2 linked regions of the Homo sapiens genome follow. The protein of the gene in region 2 interacts with the protein of the main gene of each other region in a pairwise test. Each region holds a gene or a part of one and is shown on either strand. Other genes may lie near its edges.

Region 1 (3,066 bases), on a different chromosome or scaffold from region 2:
CCTTGGCAGAAGGATTGTTCTAAATTGCCTAATCTTCCAGTTCCGGAATGGGAAGTTCGTAGCCTTAAGAAAAAATACTTTTTGGTTTTAATTTATTTTTTAAAAAGCCTTTCTCCAAGCCAGCGCAGAGGAGCCTCTAGAGTGTTTCCATTAAAAAAAGAAATCTGAATCTAAGATATTTACTTACTGTTAGTCCATATTTCTCGATATGAGGTTTCATAATCATTACATTTACTTTTAGAAATGACAAAGCAGAAATGTATTATCACAGTCAATTCCGTGGGATATTATATTATAGATGCTACTTCAGGGTACAGCAGTGTCCATCTTTCATTAAATAAGAGAAATAAAAGTTACATATTTGAGTGAGCCTCAAGGATTATATTTTAAATAACTCAAAATATTTAAAGCATTTTAAGTATTTTTAATGACGTATATACATTTTATTTATCTTGCTTAATCTACTTTCAAAAGCTAAAATATTTCAAAGGATTATCTTAAATGTGACTCTACCTGGAAGTGCAAAACTCAGTTTAATAAATACTTTATTTTATAAATCAGGTCAATACACATACCCATCCAACAATACATACAAATTCGGCCTAATTATTTAAATTCAACTCCACATAAAATTAAGGTATTACAAAACATTTTTCTGGTAAATATATATATAAATGGGATAAAAACTAAGATATAAATTATATGTGTTAAATGTAAACATGAGGATAAAATATTTTTCAAATGAGCACTAAATTAAATTATTCATTTATTAGAATCTTCAAAATGTTCAAGTCTCATATTCCAATGTATTATGTTATAAACACTTTACATAGATCTTGTGCTTTATAAATATCTATTCTAGGCTACGTGTTTTACAAATATTCACTCATTTAATCCTCTTAGTGGTTGATACCACTCTCCCCATGTTACTGATGAGCAATCTGAGTTACAGAGAGGTAGGTAACGTGTACCTGATAAATAACCAGTAAGTGGTAGAACTGGGATTAGAATCAGACCTCCAAAGGCCAAAGTCTTTACTGCCAAGTTACATTAAAGCAAATAAATTGCAAACGTTTATTGAGAATACTTATGATATAAATGTTAAAAGGATGCTCTGGCCTTTGTTTCTAGAGACTATGTCTCTATAGCTATGGAGTAAGGCTCAGGCCAGGGATGGGAACAACTCACCTATGCCTTTTAACTCCTATCATCTCTGCTGGAAACCAGACCCATCCTCCAGCCAGCATGTTCTCACCCTGGTTTCCTGAAAGCATCATGGGCATTCCCTTTTGATCAGTTTGCTCTCCTCTTTTCCCCTCACTTGAATTCCCTTTGGTATCTTCAACACTAAGCACAGTGTTCTCCATCTGTCAGATATGCAGGAAAGGTGGTGACTGATGATTTATTAGTGGTTACAGTTGTTAGGTAAAATTGATGTTGTTTAATAAATTTGTACAGGACATGAACACTTACTGGAAAACTTTCACCAAATAATTTATAAAAGCATATCATTATTCTCAGTCTATAGAAACTGTCAGAAATTCATAAATGTAATAAGTACAACATTTTAGTACATTTCCCCTATAACAGTCTATTAGAAATGAAGACAAAAAGCTATAATTTTACATTCATCAGGTACCTTGTAAAGCATCACACAGACTTGGTAAATGATGTTATTTAAAATGACTTTTTTTTTAAGTTTTCAAATACTGAGTTTATGGAATAAGTATTTAAAATTATTTTAAACAATTCAAATTATAAATAGTAAATAACACAATTAAATACATATGTGTTTTATTCATGCTATATTTATAGCTATGTGCAAATAGTTGTGAACTTTATGTAGCCGTATTGACATAGACAAATGAGAATAGCAAACTCGGCCAAGCAGAGTCTCTCTCTGTTCCCTTACATCCTTCACTGCTTAGGTCCAGCTTTCCGTGGACTTAAGTCTGACTTAAAAGGAATTTCTTGCCAACAATGCAGTGCTTCTCTTGTCTTTTGTTTGTTTTGTTTTGTTTTAATCAGACCCTTGCTTATATTTATATCCACCTTTCCTATCACAGCAAATTGAGAGAGTAACTGTTTAACCATTTGTATAGATGCATGCATGTATAGAAAGATGACCTTCCAGCTGGAAAATTTACATCATTCTGAGGAATAAATTTAAAGGAAAATTATCTCATCCAAATACCACTTTTATTATTTTCATTTTTTCCTTAAGAAAAGGATTCATCGTGTATTAAAATGTTTGAGTTTTTTAGTCATACTTCTTAATATTTTAAATGTTTCAGACAAACCTCTGTTTTGCTCTATATTGCTCTGTTCCATTTTGCTTCCATATCCAAATTAATGTCTCCTTTTATTTTCTCTCCTGGTTATTATAATAACATGATTTGTCCTCTGAAATGTAGGTATGCTGTTTATTGTACCAAAAAAAAACACCATTATGTTTATTTTAAAGACATTTACTTTCTTGGCTTCAATAGAAGGCACAATTTTGAATCTCACTTCAGTGTTATTTGTAACAAATATTTTAAGGTATCAGTTGGCCATAATTAATCTAAAACCTACAAAAACATATATAGAACATAATGATTTTTGTATCAAGCTCCTTTATTGCACTGATGCCTATCTTAAAATGAAAATCTTTTTCTTGAGAGAAAACAGTCAGAGCAGGTGGGAGCAATAGATAGACCTGGCCGGTGGCAGCTGAGCCCCCTGGGGATGAGTGGGACTACCTCTGTCCACCCACAACCTTCACCATTGCTGTTATTGTTTGGAGTGGGGACAATCTTTGTTTTTGTTTTAAGAAATAGCATACACCTTGAAACTACAGATTTAACATTATGTAACATGGGTAGATTATTTTTATAATTAATCTATATTAAATTAAATTGGGGTTTGTGAGGATTTTTTATTTAATCCTCACAATAAACCAGGGTATACTGCAGAGTATAACTAGCCCAAGCAGGCACTTAGTTTTTTATGTCATTGGAACATACAATGGTAACTTCATAATTTTATCACTAGCTAGCTACTATGTATCAGAAAATGGCAAAATTT
Region 2 (3,659 bases):
GTAGGTCTCGTCGTGGTTCTCCTGGATCTCGGCCCTGCAGCTCTCCATCTGCTGGCTGGTCACCAAGCCCACTGGCTTCTTGGGCAGCTCCATGCGGCTGATGATGGCCTGAAAGCGCTTGTATGTAAGGGGTGGCTTCTGCCCATTCAGCTCAATGATCCTGGGGAGCCCAAAGCATAGCTAGTGTTACCCACATGGCCCTGTGATGTGGGTCCCTGCCCACCCAAAAAAGAACCCAGACTCTGAAGGCTTTGAGGGTGGCTTTCCTCATCCACTCACAGGTCCCATGCCTGAGTGGAAAGGAGGGGGCAAGGGAGGCCGCATCTCCATTTTACCGAGAGGGAAAATAAAGCCCAGAGAGCTGAAGCAGGTGCCTCAGTAATGGAGCAAGGCAGGGCCAGAGCTGGGACTCAATTCCGGGCTCCCTGGTGTTGACGCAGAGCCGCCTAAAGACAGAGACTGACAAAATCTCTAATCACAGAAAAATCCCTACTAGCCTGCTTGGCACTTGGCCTATCTGTCCAAGCTAAGGGAATCCCCATAGGCCTCTACCACCCATGTAAGCCCTGGAGAAAGTTCTTTGATAAGAGCTGAAGACATGTTTTTTTTTTTTTTTTTTTTAACTCTAACATCATAAGGAATAGCAGACATGTTCCTTTCTTGGAAAATCATCCCCTTCTTAGCCTCCATTTATTAGAACATTGAACAGAGAGGTGGAAGACAGCTTATCCTCCCAAATTCAGAGACTGGAGCTAGAGTTCATAGCCACAACTGATACTTAAAGAGAGTCTTGTAGTTTACAAAGTATTTTTCATGACCAGGGAAAACATAACTGCACTCATGCAAGAAGGAAGGAGTATCAGAGGGCGAAGAAGAGAACGGAGGCTGTTTATATAAGGATGAATTGGGATGGTATGGAGCCACATTCCCGGGGCTCTTCTTGGCCAAGAAGTAGCTTACGCAAGGCCCATCTGGCTGGGTGAGTTCATTTCTCAGTTTGCTCTCCCCACGTTAGTGGAGATATATGGTCGGCTGCTGCCTCTGCTATGCCTCCCTCTCCTCTGGCACGCAGCAGGAGGAGGATCTCCACACCCAGCCTCTCCTCCTGAGGGCCCGGCTCACGTGCACAGCTGTGTGACCTGGCTTCTTGGCAGCCAGCACTGGGTTGGGAAGTGGGGGTGGGGAGCGGCGGCGGCTGCTGGCTTGGCAGCAGCAGCAACAGCAGCAGCAGCAGCAGGAGGGTGACAGCTCTGGCATGGCAGGGAAGGGGAGGAGAGGATTTCCTCCTAGAATCTCTGAAAGCACAGAGGCTGTCACCAGGGGAGGAGGCTCCTCTGTAGTTAGCAGCTCCCTGCAGGGATCTCTAGAGCCCTCCCCGCCACCAAGCAACATGGCCTGGAAACCCAGATAGTCATAGAACCTGGGAACTCTTTTTTTTTTTTTTTTGACACAGGATCTTGCTCTGTCACCCAGGCTGGAGTGACGTGGCATGATCACAGCTCATGGCAGCCTCAAGCCCCTGGGCTCAAGTGATCCTCCAACCTCAGCCTCTTCAGTAATTGGGACTACAGGCATGTCCCACCATGCATGGCTAATATATTTATTTTTAGTAGAGACGGGGGTCTCACTATGTTGCCCAGGCTGATCTTGAACTCATGGACTCATGTGATCCTCTCAAAGTGCTGGGATTACAGGCATGAGCCAGCATGCCCAGCCTAGGAACTCATCTTAGGTACAAAAACTGGACCTGTGTGAACAGAGGTCTGTTGGAGGGGTAACAGACAGGGTCCACTGAGGTCAGAGGGCAGCTGTTGAGCAGGATGGAAGTGGGAATATGAGGCACAGGTGGGACTCGGGCATACTAGGAGCAGATTTGTAAATACCCTGAGTGTGGGTCCTCACTGCTTCCATGCTTTGGGCCTAACAAGCCTCTCTGCCACCTCAATGGGGTAAAGCTCTTTGTGACCTGTTCTACAGGTCCTGACTCTGGCCTATTCTCCTCCAGCTTCTAGAAGATGCCATGCCTCCTGGGTCAGGTAGCCCTAATGCTGAACCTCTCTGAGTTCCGCTCAGCAGGGGCCCAAATTACTAACTCTCACAATTGGTAACCTGATCCCTGGGCCCCATCTCTTACCTGTCCAGGTCATAGAGGGTATGAGAATTCTCCGTCACTACTTCCACACCAGCCTCCTTGGCCATCTTCATGATGGCTGCATCCCGTTCTTTCCCAAAGGGTTCAGAGTCATATTCAAAGGTCAAGCGGGTCACTCCCCATTCCTGTGGGGAGAGGATCTGTTATGCTCAACACTGTGTTTGGGGAGGAGGGGGAAGCTGGACTCTCAGTTCCTTCCTGGGAGAGAACAGAGCTAGTCTAGAGACCTATCTGATGGGCAGCAGAAAAAACTAGGAACAGGGATTTGATCTGGAAAGCAAACAAGCTGAGGTTCAGAAAGTTTGAGGAGGGCAGGCAGTGTGGCGAAGCCAACAGCACAGCAACAGTGGAGTTGGGAGAGAGGTAGGCAGCCTTGTGCACTTGCTGTGTCCTTGAGGTAGGAGAATGCAGCAGGAGGCCATAAATACAACGCTCCTGGGAAACCCCCAGTCCCAGAGAGTGGCACTGACTCACAGGTGGGACAGGACCACAGCCTTCTGCCTGCTCAGCAAGCTTTTCCCAGAGCTCCTCACAGCCCTGCAGACTTGTGGCCTAGTTTTCTTGGCAGAGTTGTGCTATGTGAAGTGTCTTAATTGTTTCCACAGCAACACTCCTGAGGCCAATAGCAAACAGAGCTAATAGGTTCCAGCCCTGAGAGAGTCAGGAAAGGGGAAGCGATCCTTAGTCTGGAGGTCAGAGGAAACTGACCAGAGGGGCTACATGTTGAAAAGGAGGAAGTTCTTTCCTAAGCCTTTAGTCATTTCTGGTAGGAATTTCTAGATCTCATAGCAAGCTGGCCCAGTGAATGGTTGTACAGTCAACCCACAGAAAGCCCTAGAGCATGCAACTTGCAAGAAGAAAAACACATTCTCCAAAGTCTCTGGTCATAGTCTCTGAAAGCTCTGAACCACAGGGGCAAATGTCCTAGCCATGCACAGGCTGGTCTGGTCCTGACTCAGCCCTGCCCGGGGACTGGGTCCTTAGCAGGGCCAGTTATCCCTCATTCGAGGATATCAGCATTAAACATTGATTGAGCCCTTGCTATATGCCAGGTACCATGCTTATAGTTCATATAGGTTACATCACTGAATACTCATTGTAACCTGTGAATAACAATATTATTAAATTACATTTTCTCCAAGAAGCCTTCTTGACCTCCTCCTTCAATATAATTCTTCTGCACCTTGTCTTTTTTCCACTGCAGCATGTATTATATGACAATGATACACTTGCCTGTTTCCCCTATTAGTGTGAACTCTCAGAGCAGAAACCATGTTGTCTCACTCATCATCATTACCCTTATACCTAGTATGGGGCCTAGTACCTAGCAGAAGCTCAATAAAAATACATTACATGACTGAATGGATGACCTAGCTATATCTCTGGGATATAAGTGGGTTGGCCTCTGAGTTGCTGGGGGAGAAAAAGGGCAATGTCGAGGGGAGAAGGGAGGCAAATGTATTTATATGGTATGGTGGGTAAGGATACAGCTCTAGAGTCAGAATCC

Evidence for each region. The genes of interacting proteins can lie anywhere in the genome.
Region 1: the proteins of CRY2 (region 2) and VWC2 interact in binary tests that used the Homo sapiens proteins (3 or more experiments, as listed by UniProt).

What each region holds. Positions count from the first base shown.
Region 1 is NC_000007.14:49,919,413-49,922,478, reverse strand, and holds the end of VWC2 (brorin precursor), read right to left. Parts: 3' UTR 529-3,066; downstream 1-528. UniProt on the Homo sapiens protein: BMP antagonist which may play a role in neural development. Promotes cell adhesion.
Region 2 is NC_000011.10:45,857,349-45,861,007, reverse strand, and holds part of CRY2 (cryptochrome-2), read right to left. Parts: intron 2,278-3,659; coding exon 2,135-2,277; intron 161-2,134; coding exon 1-160. UniProt on the Homo sapiens protein: Transcriptional repressor which forms a core component of the circadian clock.